Regions from separate parts of the Homo sapiens genome. Here region 2 is linked to region 1. Evidence: fine-mapped expression QTL. Tissue or cell type: whole blood. Region 1 holds a variant in brackets; the other region holds the start of a gene. All regions are shown on one strand. Distances are from middle to middle.

Evidence for each region. PIP is the estimated chance that this variant, and not a neighbour inherited with it, causes the effect.
Region 2: GGA2 starts here. The variant in region 1 is fine-mapped to the expression of GGA2 in whole blood (TOPMed, PIP above 0.99).

The regions. Positions count from the first base shown.
Region 1 is chr16:23,378,236-23,383,493 of GRCh38, forward strand. It overlaps SCNN1B (sodium channel epithelial 1 subunit beta), which reads left to right. Exons shown (of 13, transcript NM_000336.3): 11 at 471-532; 12 at 1,859-1,934; 13 at 2,186-3,059. The coding sequence ends at 2,566. Among named protein-coding and RNA genes, the nearest start is that of COG7, 72 kb to the right of the region's middle. RefSeq lists an enhancer at 1,823-2,324. The variant C/T (reference allele first, on the strand shown) is at 2,169.
Region 2 is chr16:23,507,819-23,512,818 of GRCh38, forward strand. It overlaps GGA2 (golgi associated, gamma adaptin ear containing, ARF binding protein 2), which reads right to left and starts at 2,676. Exons shown (of 17, transcript NM_015044.4): 1 at 2,503-2,676. The coding sequence starts at 2,593. RefSeq lists silencers at 2,363-2,532, 2,603-2,832, 2,903-2,952.

The DNA.
Region 1 (5,258 bases):
CTGGCCTTAAGCGATCCTCCCACCTCAGCCTCCCAAAATGCTGGGATTACAGGCATGAGCCACCATGCCCAGCTTCTGGGAAAGCATGTTAGACCGAGTGGTCAGGGAAGGCCTCTCTGAAAAGGTGACATTGGAGCTGACACCTGGAGGCAGAGGCTGAGCCATCATGGGCAGAGCTGGGGAGGATTCCGGGCAGAGGGAGCAGGAAGTGTGAGGACCAGAGGTGGGAGAGAGCCGGGCAGGGTGGCCAGGCCCGCCGAGGAAGAGTCTGGAGGCCCGAGTCCTTCCTCCCCTAGAACAGCAGCCACAGCTTCCACTACGACCTTCCTCCTGCTCCTCATCCAAATTGTGATTCCCCCGGGGGCCTCAGGAAGGGACAGGGCTGTGGTCTACCTCCCCCAGGGAACAGAGCCATGACTGGGAGGGATGCTGCAGATGGCAACTTTTGCAACCACCTTCTTGGGTTCCAGGACTGGATTTTCCACGTCTTGTCTCAGGAGCGGGACCAAAGCACCAATATCACCCTGAGCAGGTGAGCCTGAGCCTGGGCGGGGCTGGGGAAGACAGGGAAGGGGTCCAGAAACTCGGGGCAGGAGTTTGGACACAGGACAGCTCCTCAGACACATTCTCACATGGGTCAGACCGAGGAGCAAGTCTTGAGGAGGAGGCACTAGGAGTGAGAGAGAGGAAAGGCAGCCAAGGGGACTCTGAGTCTACCACCTGCTAAGGAGAAGCCTGTGCTTCCCTCTGTCACTGTGCATCCAACCAGCCATCCATTCATCCTCCATCATCCACCCACGCGCCCAGCCATCCTCCACTCATTCATCCTCCATTCTCCCACCCAGCCATCCTCCACCCATTCATCCCTCCATCATCCACCCACACACCCAGCCATCCTCCACTCATTCATCCTCCATTCTCCCACCCACGCAGCCAGCCATCCTCCACCCATTCATCCCTCCATCATCCACCTCTCCATTCTCCCACCCACGCACCCAGCCATCCTCCGTTTATTCATGGATCTCTCCATCCATTCAACACAAACACTAGTTGAGCACAAGAAAGACACACAGTCCAAGCTAGCAGGAGTCTAGGGGGCAAACATATGTAAAAAGGGCTCAAGGAGAGGAGGGTCTGTACAAGCCCCCTACTCTAGGAGTACAGCAGGGAAGGAGCCTCAGTCTGCCTGAGAGATAAGGGAGGTCTGCGTAGGGAGGTGGCTTTGAGTGAACTCTCCAAGGAGGAGTAAGTGCTGTTCAGATAAGAAGAGGTACCAATGTCCAGGCAGAAGACAAAGCTGGAAAGCCTGGAGGCACGAGACAGCACAGCCTGAGGACGATCAGGTGGGAGGGGATGCCCACACAGCCACCCTTCTCTGTCCCAGGTGCAGTGAAGGCGCTCAAGGCTCAGTGAAGAGCTCTGTGCGGAGTCACTCCGTATAGCCCAGGCCACCCTGATGGCACAAAGTGGGGAGCTCAGAGCAGATCTTTGGGGCTGTCCCAGGCCAGAGTGTCCTGTAGGGAACTGGTAGTCAGGGGATGGAGAAAGGGGGCCATAGGATGGGTGCTGGGCAGAGATGCCCAGAAGGGCCGGGAAGGGCTGCACTTGCAGTTCTCGTTTGGACCTCCCCACTCACGGGGGCACGCATGAGAGAAGCTCAGGACAGAGGAGGGCTGGGGCGGCCATCCCTGGCTGCCTTCCTGTGTGCATGTGTGCACGGGTGTGTGGGTACATGTGTGTGCATACATGTGGGTGTGTGCACGTGCATGTGTGTGCATGTGTCTATGTGCGTGTGTGTGTGTCTGTCTGTTTGGAAGGGGGATACATTAGTCCCGGCCCTTCTCGCTGCCTCCTGCAGGAAGGGAATTGTCAAGCTCAACATCTACTTCCAAGAATTTAACTATCGCACCATTGAAGAATCAGCAGCCAATAACGTGAGTTTAGGAGTCTCCCAATACCCCAGCCCTGCCCTGCCCTGACCCCTGCACCCTGAGGGTGGGGGAAGGGTTCTGAGCCCTATGAAGGAATTAGGAAGATCCCTAAGACAGTCCCAAGTTATTCCCCTGGGCCAAGATGGTCACCCCCTCCCGTTCCCACCCAAGAATCACCTCCCAGGAAGCTGTGAGGCTGGGCTAGAGGCAAGAATGTGTGGCCTGAGCTCACCCCAG[C/T]TCCCTGTTCCCCACAGATCGTCTGGCTGCTCTCGAATCTGGGTGGCCAGTTTGGCTTCTGGATGGGGGGCTCTGTGCTGTGCCTCATCGAGTTTGGGGAGATCATCATCGACTTTGTGTGGATCACCATCATCAAGCTGGTGGCCTTGGCCAAGAGCCTACGGCAGCGGCGAGCCCAAGCCAGCTACGCTGGCCCACCGCCCACCGTGGCCGAGCTGGTGGAGGCCCACACCAACTTTGGCTTCCAGCCTGACACGGCCCCCCGCAGCCCCAACACTGGGCCCTACCCCAGTGAGCAGGCCCTGCCCATCCCAGGCACCCCGCCCCCCAACTATGACTCCCTGCGTCTGCAGCCGCTGGACGTCATCGAGTCTGACAGTGAGGGTGATGCCATCTAACCCTGCCCCTGCCCACCCCGGGCGGCTGAAACTCACTGAGCAGCCAAGACTGTTGCCCGAGGCCTCACTGTATGGTGCCCTCTCCAAAGGGTCGGGAGGGTAGCTCTCCAGGCCAGAGCTTGTGTCCTTCAACAGAGAGGCCAGCGGCAACTGGTCCGTTACTGGCCAAGGGCTCTGTAGAATCACGGTGCTGGTACAGGATGCAGGAATAAATTGTATCTTCACCTGGTTCCTACCCTCGTCCCTACCTGTCCTGATCCTGGTCCTGAAGACCCCTCGGAACACCCTCTCCTGGTGGCAGGCCACTTCCCTCCCAGTGCCAGTCTCCATCCACCCCAGAGAGGAACAGGCGGGTGGGCCATGTGGTTTTCTCCTTCCTGGCCTTGGCTGGCCTCTGGGGCAGGGGTGGTGGAGAGATGGAAGGGCATCAGGTGTAGGGACCCTGCCAAGTGGCACCTGATTTACTCTAGAAAATAAAAGTAGAAAATACTGAGTCCAGCTGTGTTGTTTGTTTGACTGGGCAGCCGAGGTGCCCTGATGGCGGAAGGGCATCCATAGTGGCTTGAGACCCAAACTGGTTTAAGGGAAAGGCTCTCAAGCCCCTCCTTCCACTGCCAGCTCCCAGGCTGACACTCACTGATCCCTGCCTGGGTTGTGTACCCATCTCTGACCCAGTCAGTGTGGCCAGTTAGATAAGCTGCTCTGACTGGTCACACCTGAATTCATCTGCCCAGACCTGAAGCCAGTTTGGCCCCCAGGAGAATCACATGGTCCAAGGGCGGTGGGGGCACAGTACCCACGGTTGCCAGATAACAATCAGGCTGCTTGGTTGAATTTGAATTTCAGATAGACAAACTGATTTTTTTTTTTTTTGAGATGGAGTCTCACTGTCATTGCCCAGGCTGGAGTGCAGTGGCACGATCTTGGCTCACTGTAACCTCTGCCTCCTGGGTTCAAGTGATTCTCATGCCTTGGCCTCGCGAGTAGCTGGAATTACAGGTGCATGCCACCACGCCCAGCTAATTTTCATATTTTTAATAGAGACGGGGTTTCACCATGTTGGCCGGGCTGGTCTCAAGCTCCTGGCCTCAGGCGATCCACCTGCCTCAGCCTCTCAAAGTGGTGGGATTACAGGCATGAGTCACCGACCCCAGCCGAAAAACTGATTTTTTTAGTATATGTACATCCATGCAATACTAGAGACACATACAAATAAATCATTTGTTGTTTTTTTTGAGCATTTTATACATATATATTTTTATAGAGATGGGGTGTCACTGTGTTGCCCAGGTGGGAGTGCAATGGCATGATCATAGCTCACCGTAGCCTCAAACTCCTGGGCTCAAGCCATCCTCCCACTTCAGCCTCCCAAGCAGCTGGAATTACAGGTGTGCACTACCATGCCTGGCTAATTTTTTTTAATTAAAATTTAATTTTAATTTTTTTCATTCTGTATTTTTAATTGCTAAATACCGTCCCCCAAAAGCTTAAGGTACCCAAAGAGAGATCAGGGAGCTGTCACCAGAGTACGGTCTGGCAGGTGCACACACAGCACTGCAGCACCCTGCTGTCACCTACCGGGCCCCTGGTGATGAAGGAGAGGCTGGCTTAGAGCCTGAGCCTCTGAGGGCCCAGCCTTCCTGGCCTAGGTCACCTGTGTCCCTTGGTCTGGAAGGTAAACAAGCTGGCCTCCCATCAAGTGCTCAGGATGGCACCTGTGGAAGAAGGAGGTGCCACAGAGTCGGTGCCACTTCAGTCAAAGGCAACGTTGCTAGGGGCTGAGTAGGGAGGGCTGAGTAGGAAACCGGGTTTCCCAGCTTGGGGCCTGGCTAGCTCGCAGGCTGGGCCCACAACTCTTGGTGGTTACCACCCTTACTACTTACTGTGTGATTACCGCTGTGATTACTTACTACTGTGATTACCGCTTTTATTACTAGCAGTAGTAGTTGTGGCCACAATCACTGTTACCATTTGTTGTTATTAAACAAGGACTACATTGGATCAAGTACTTATCATATGCCAGGCACTATGCCAGTAACTTTTTAAATTTTATTTCATTCTCATAACCACTGAGAAATAGTATAATAGCATCCCATTGCACAGGTAAGAACACTGAGGCTTAAGAGGTGAAGTAAGGTACTCGAGGTTTTTAAGTGACAAAGCTGAGACCCCAGCCTCACCCTCTGGGTGCCAATGGTCATAACAATACCAGTCCCTTACGGGAGCCCAGAGCTTTCATATTTATTATCTTATTTGAAGCTATGGGGCATTATTATCTAGCCCGCGTGACAGCTCTTCAGTTACATGTCAATTTGAACAGGCTTAAGCTACAAAGGGAATTCATTAGCTCTTGTAGTAAAAGGGTTTCAGGCATGGCTGTATGCAGGGGCTCGCCTAGGTCTGGGGTTTCTTTTTTCTTTTTTTTTGAGATGGAGTTTTGCTCATTGCCCAGGCTGGCATGCAATGGCGCTATCTCGGCTCACTGCAACCTCCCCGTCCTGGGTTCAAGCGATTCTCCTGCCTCAGCTTCCCAAGTAGCTGAGATTACAGCCGCCCACCACCACATCTGGCTAATTTTTATATTTTGATAGAGATGGGATGTCACTATGTTGGCCAGGCTGGTCTCGAACTCCTGACCCCAGGTGATCCACCCACCTCGGCCTCCCAAAGTGCTAGGATTACAGGCGTGAGC
Region 2 (5,000 bases), 130 kb after region 1:
AATAAAAATACATTTAAAAAAAGCTAGAACTGGGGAGGCTGATGTGGGAAAAATGCTTGAGCCCAGGAGAGGGGTAAGCTGCAGTGAGCTGAGATCATGCCGCTGCACTCCAGCCTGGGTGACACAGTGAGACTCTGTTTCAAAAAAAGCTGGAGTTGAAGAACTGTGTCCTTGGGCAGCCTCAGTTCCAGGCACTCCTTTTATCTCCTCCACCTGAGGCAGCTACTTTCTCTTACTCCGGCTACTTTTTTTTTTTTTTTTTGAGACAGAATCTCGCCTTGTCACCTAGGCTGGAGTGCAGCGGTGCAATCTTGGCTCCACCTCCACAACCTCTGCCCCAAGGGTTCAAGTGATCCTCCCACCTCGGCCTCCCAAGTAGCTGGAATTACAGGTGTGCGCCACCACACATGGCTATTTTTTGTATTTTAGTAGAGACGGGGTTTCACCATGTTGGCCAGGCTGGTCTTAAACTCCTGGCCTCAAAGGATTGGCCCACCTCAGCCTCCCAAAGTGCTGCGATTACAGGCATGAACAGCCTTTTTTTCTAATTTTTGCAACTCCAGTCTAAGCCTTCTGTTCTCCATTGCCTCCTAAAACTACTACCTTCTGTCTCTACTGTTTAACTCAAGGATGTCTCATTAAATAACTGGTTGGTTACCAAATTCAAAGTTCTCTCTTCTCCTTCCTCATTCTCCTCCATCTTTAAGGAGCAAAACTACGTTACAACCACATCCCTCCTTTGCTATCAGTGGGTGCCCCTGCAGGTCTCCCCCTGCCTGTTTCTGCTCAGCCTTCAGTCTTCTCTTCCCATCTGCCTCTTCAATGCTGGGGCTCCCCACGCTCTCTTTCCAAACCTCTGCTCTTAATATACGCAAGCTTCTCCCGCAAGCTCACTGCCAATGAACCAGACTCCCAAACCGTACGTCCCACACTTGCCCTCTCCAGTGCCAACCAGCTGCCTAGAGGGCATCTCTTTTTTGACTATGCCACAAGCACCTCAAACTCCACATCTCAACCTTCTCTGCCTAAACCAGCTCCTCCTCACAGGGGAGGCATCTGTAACCCACCAGTTCCTCGAGCCTGAAACCCGCGATCTAGCCTAGATTTCTCCTTGTCCCCTGTCTGCATTCCAAGGCACCGAGGCTGCTGACTACGCCTGCTCATTGCTTCTCCCTCTCCCCACTGCCTTAGTCCTCCTGCGGCCCCCAACCACCACCAAAAGAGCTTTTTAGCCGCTCTCCCTGCCTGAAGTCTCACCCTCTCCGCCCAATTTAGCACCATATGGCTGCAAGTGACGCCTTTAACAGGCTTCCTTGATCAGATTCTCCGGCTGAAAACTCCCAAACAGCAACCCCGCCCTCGGATAAAACATAAACTCCTTTCTGCAGCACACAAGGCTCTTGAAGATCTCGCCCCAATTAGCCGTGCAGCCCCTTTCCCGGATTCCTGAGCTTTAGGCTTGCACTCCAGCGGACTGACCTACTTGTTCCCGGAGTGCTCCACATTCTCTTGTCCCCAGCTTTTGCACACGCAGTTTCTTCTGCCTGGAATGCGGTCGGCTGTGACGACCCCCAGGTAAACCAACTCCTACCACCACAGGTGAAACGAACGCCCTCCTCCTCCTCGCCAATCCCGTTAGTAAGGTGATGTGACTGCCGGCTTGTACCCACTAAAAAATGTTTTGGTGAGCAAGGACCCTGTGTTATGCATCTCAGTGTTCCTGGCACCTAGCAGAGCTGGGTACAAGGGGAATATTCTTTATCCCCTTTGAACCTCAATCCCTCATTGGTAAAACGGAGATAATAATAACCCCTAAGATGACTGTGAAGCTTACAGGAGACATGCAGAAGAATTCTGGCCAAAGGGTTTGAGCCCAACCAGGGTAACATAATGAGACCCCGTCTCTTAAAGGAAAAAAAAAACACACATATATATATATACGCACACACACACACACGTGTGTGTGTGTTTAAAAAAAAAAGTCTGGCCAAAGTAAACACAAAAGGTAAAAAATTTCTTTTTGACGCGGTAGCCAGATAGAGATCTTTCTCAGCCCCAAACAGACTGCATGTCTTGCACGACTGCGTCTCCTTAAGCCTCAAGGTCCCCGCTTCCGTAGTGGGGTTAATAATAGAAGCCAGCTCGGGGTGGGAATGAGGATTAAGCAGGACTAAGCCGCTGTGAGCACAGTGCCTGGCGCAGGGGAAAGCGCAGGTCACGTAGCCATTGGGGTGGGGGTCGGGGTCCTGTGCTGCTGCTAAGTTGGGGGGTGGGCGGAGGGGGAGGGGCAGAGCTCAGAAGGGGGCCGCTGCCCCGGCGGATGCTTGGGGCTCCTCTCGGGGGACCCCTGGGCGATCTTCCCCACCGCGCCGGGCCCAGGCCCCCTACCCGGCCGCCGGCCTCCCCTGCGGCCGCCCGCCCCGAAGCAAGGCCCCGGGAGGCGGGAAGCGAGGCCTCACGTGCGGCGCAGCGGCTGCGCCGAAGGCCTGCCAGGCTACTCACTGAGCCACAGCTCCAGCGACGCTGCCGGGCCCGGGGGACCCTGGGCCGACTCGGTTCCCGCCACAGCCGCCGCCACCGCGGTCGCCGCCATCGCTCCAGCCCCGACGCTGCGGCCGCGGGCGCCACTGCCTCTTCAGCCGCTGTAGCGTCCTGGCGCTCTCCTCTGCTGACTGCGCGGCAGGAGCGGTGGACACGTGACGGGGCGGGGCCGCTGGCGCCACGCCCACCCCAGGCCCCCCCTCCACGCGGGACCGGCCGGAACATTTCTTAGTCCAGATCCCTCCACCCAGCGCTGGTCTTCTAAGACCACTCACCGTACGGTTGCCAGATAAAATACAAGACGCCCAGTTAAATTTGATTTTCAGAAGAACACGAATAATTCTTTTAGCATTTTTATTTTTTAAGAGACGGGGTCTTGCTCTGTCACTCAGGCTGGAGTCCAATGGCGCGATCACGGCTCACTGCAGCCTCCACCTCCTAGGCTCAAGCGATCCTCCCGCTTCAGTCTCCGGAGGAGCTGGGACTAGGGGAGGGCACCACCACGCCTGGCGTGTGTGTGTGTGTGTGTTAGAGACTGGGTTTCACCGTGTGTGTGTGTGTGTGTGTGTGTGTGTGTGTGTGTGTGTGTTAGAGACTGGGTTTCACCATGTTGCCCGGGTGGTCTCGAACTCCTGGTGTTAGAGACTGGGTTTCACCGTGTGTGTGTGTGTGTGTGTGTGTGTGTGTGTGTTAGAGACTGGGTTTCACCATGTTGCCCGGGTGGTCTCGAACTCCTGGGCTACAAGATCCTCTTACCTCGACTTCCCAAAGTGCTTGCATTTATTTTTTATTTTTCTTTTTTTCTTTTTTTGAGACGGAGTCTCACTCTGTCGCCTAGGCTGGAGTGCAGGGGTGCCATCTCGGCTCACTGCAACCTCCACTTCCTGGGTTCAAGCGATTCTCCTGCCTCAGCGTCCCGAGTAGCTGGGACTACAGGTGCATGCCACCACACCCAGCTATTTTTTTTTTTTTTGTATTTTTAGTAGAAACGAGGGTTCACTATGTTGGCCAGGCTGGTCTCGAACTCCTGACCTCGTGATCTGCCCGCTTCGCCCTCCCAAAGTGCTGGGATTACAGGGGTGAGCCACCACGCCCGGCCTATGTGCTTGCATTTTTATTCACAGAAGGGTTTTCCTGGAACACTTTTTTTTTTTTTCAGATGGAGTCTCGCTCTGTCGCCCAGGCTGGAGTGCAGTGGTGCTATCTCGGCTCATTGCAACCTCCACCTCCCTGGTTTCCTGGAACACTTCTAAACTAACATGTCCTGCATTCCTCAATACTCTGCTTTATTTTCTGCATCACACAGTACACCATCGATGTATTATTTACTTGCTTATTCTGTTAAAAGATAATTTTCCCAAAAAAGTATGTCATGATTATCATAATTATGAAATGAATACGTGTTAAATATTTTATTTAATTACATGAGGGAACCAAGCAGATGTTATAATCAATCCAAAAGTGAAGTCAAAGAAGGGCAAATTTATCTGGAAAAAAAGGAAGATAAGACGAATGTGCAAATGGAGGCAAAACTGGCTTTTCGACCGGGGTGAGAGCTGTCCCTCCAGTGAGCGGAATTTACCTATTTATAGGCAAGAATTATTTTGCATTGGTATCAACTTAACAGAGTTATGAGACTTCTCAAAGACAAAGAAAGGCTAGAACCTGGAAGGTTGTGCTGTCTAGACAACACATAATTTTCCATTGAAGCTGTTGTGCCGTACCCCTATTAACTTCAGTAGGGATGGCACCATGTTTGAAAGGCGGAAGAAGAGACCCAGAGCCACTGAATGAGGCAGGTTTACTGAGGGGACTTACGGGGTGGTCTAGTGGCAGTGGGCTGGACAGGAGGACCACTACCATTTGTAAAGAGCATCAGTTTATATAGTATTTTCAACTAGCACCCTTCCCCTAGCAACCTCCATCTGGCAACCTCAATTTAACCCCAAAGGGCCTTGATCCCCCGTATGGCCTGCGTTCCACAGGATGGGGCCAAGGGTTCAGATGTTCCTCTTAGATAAAGAGTGAACCTCTGGGCTGGCCACTCTGTGATTCTGTAGCTTGGAACTCAGAACACACATTCTTCTTAGACCATAGGTACGTATGCCATACAGAAGCACAAATTCTTCCTTGTAGATAACTGAATAGCAATGGGTGATGATTCTTGTCCACACACAAGCAAATGAATACTGTTCTGGGAACACACAGACTTCTTGTGGAAAAACCAGTTCTGCCCCCACTTGCACATCCATTTCAACATTCCTGATCTATACATGATGTCCATTCTTTGGACTGGTTTGAACATCTCACCAGTTTCCTCATTAAGGAGTTAAAGAAAATCTTTTTTTTTTTTTTTTTTTTTTTTTTTTGAGTCTCGCTCTGTTGCCCAGGCTGGAGTGCAATGGTGCAATCTCAGTTCACTGCAACCTCTGCCTCCTGGGTTCAAGTGATTCCCCTGC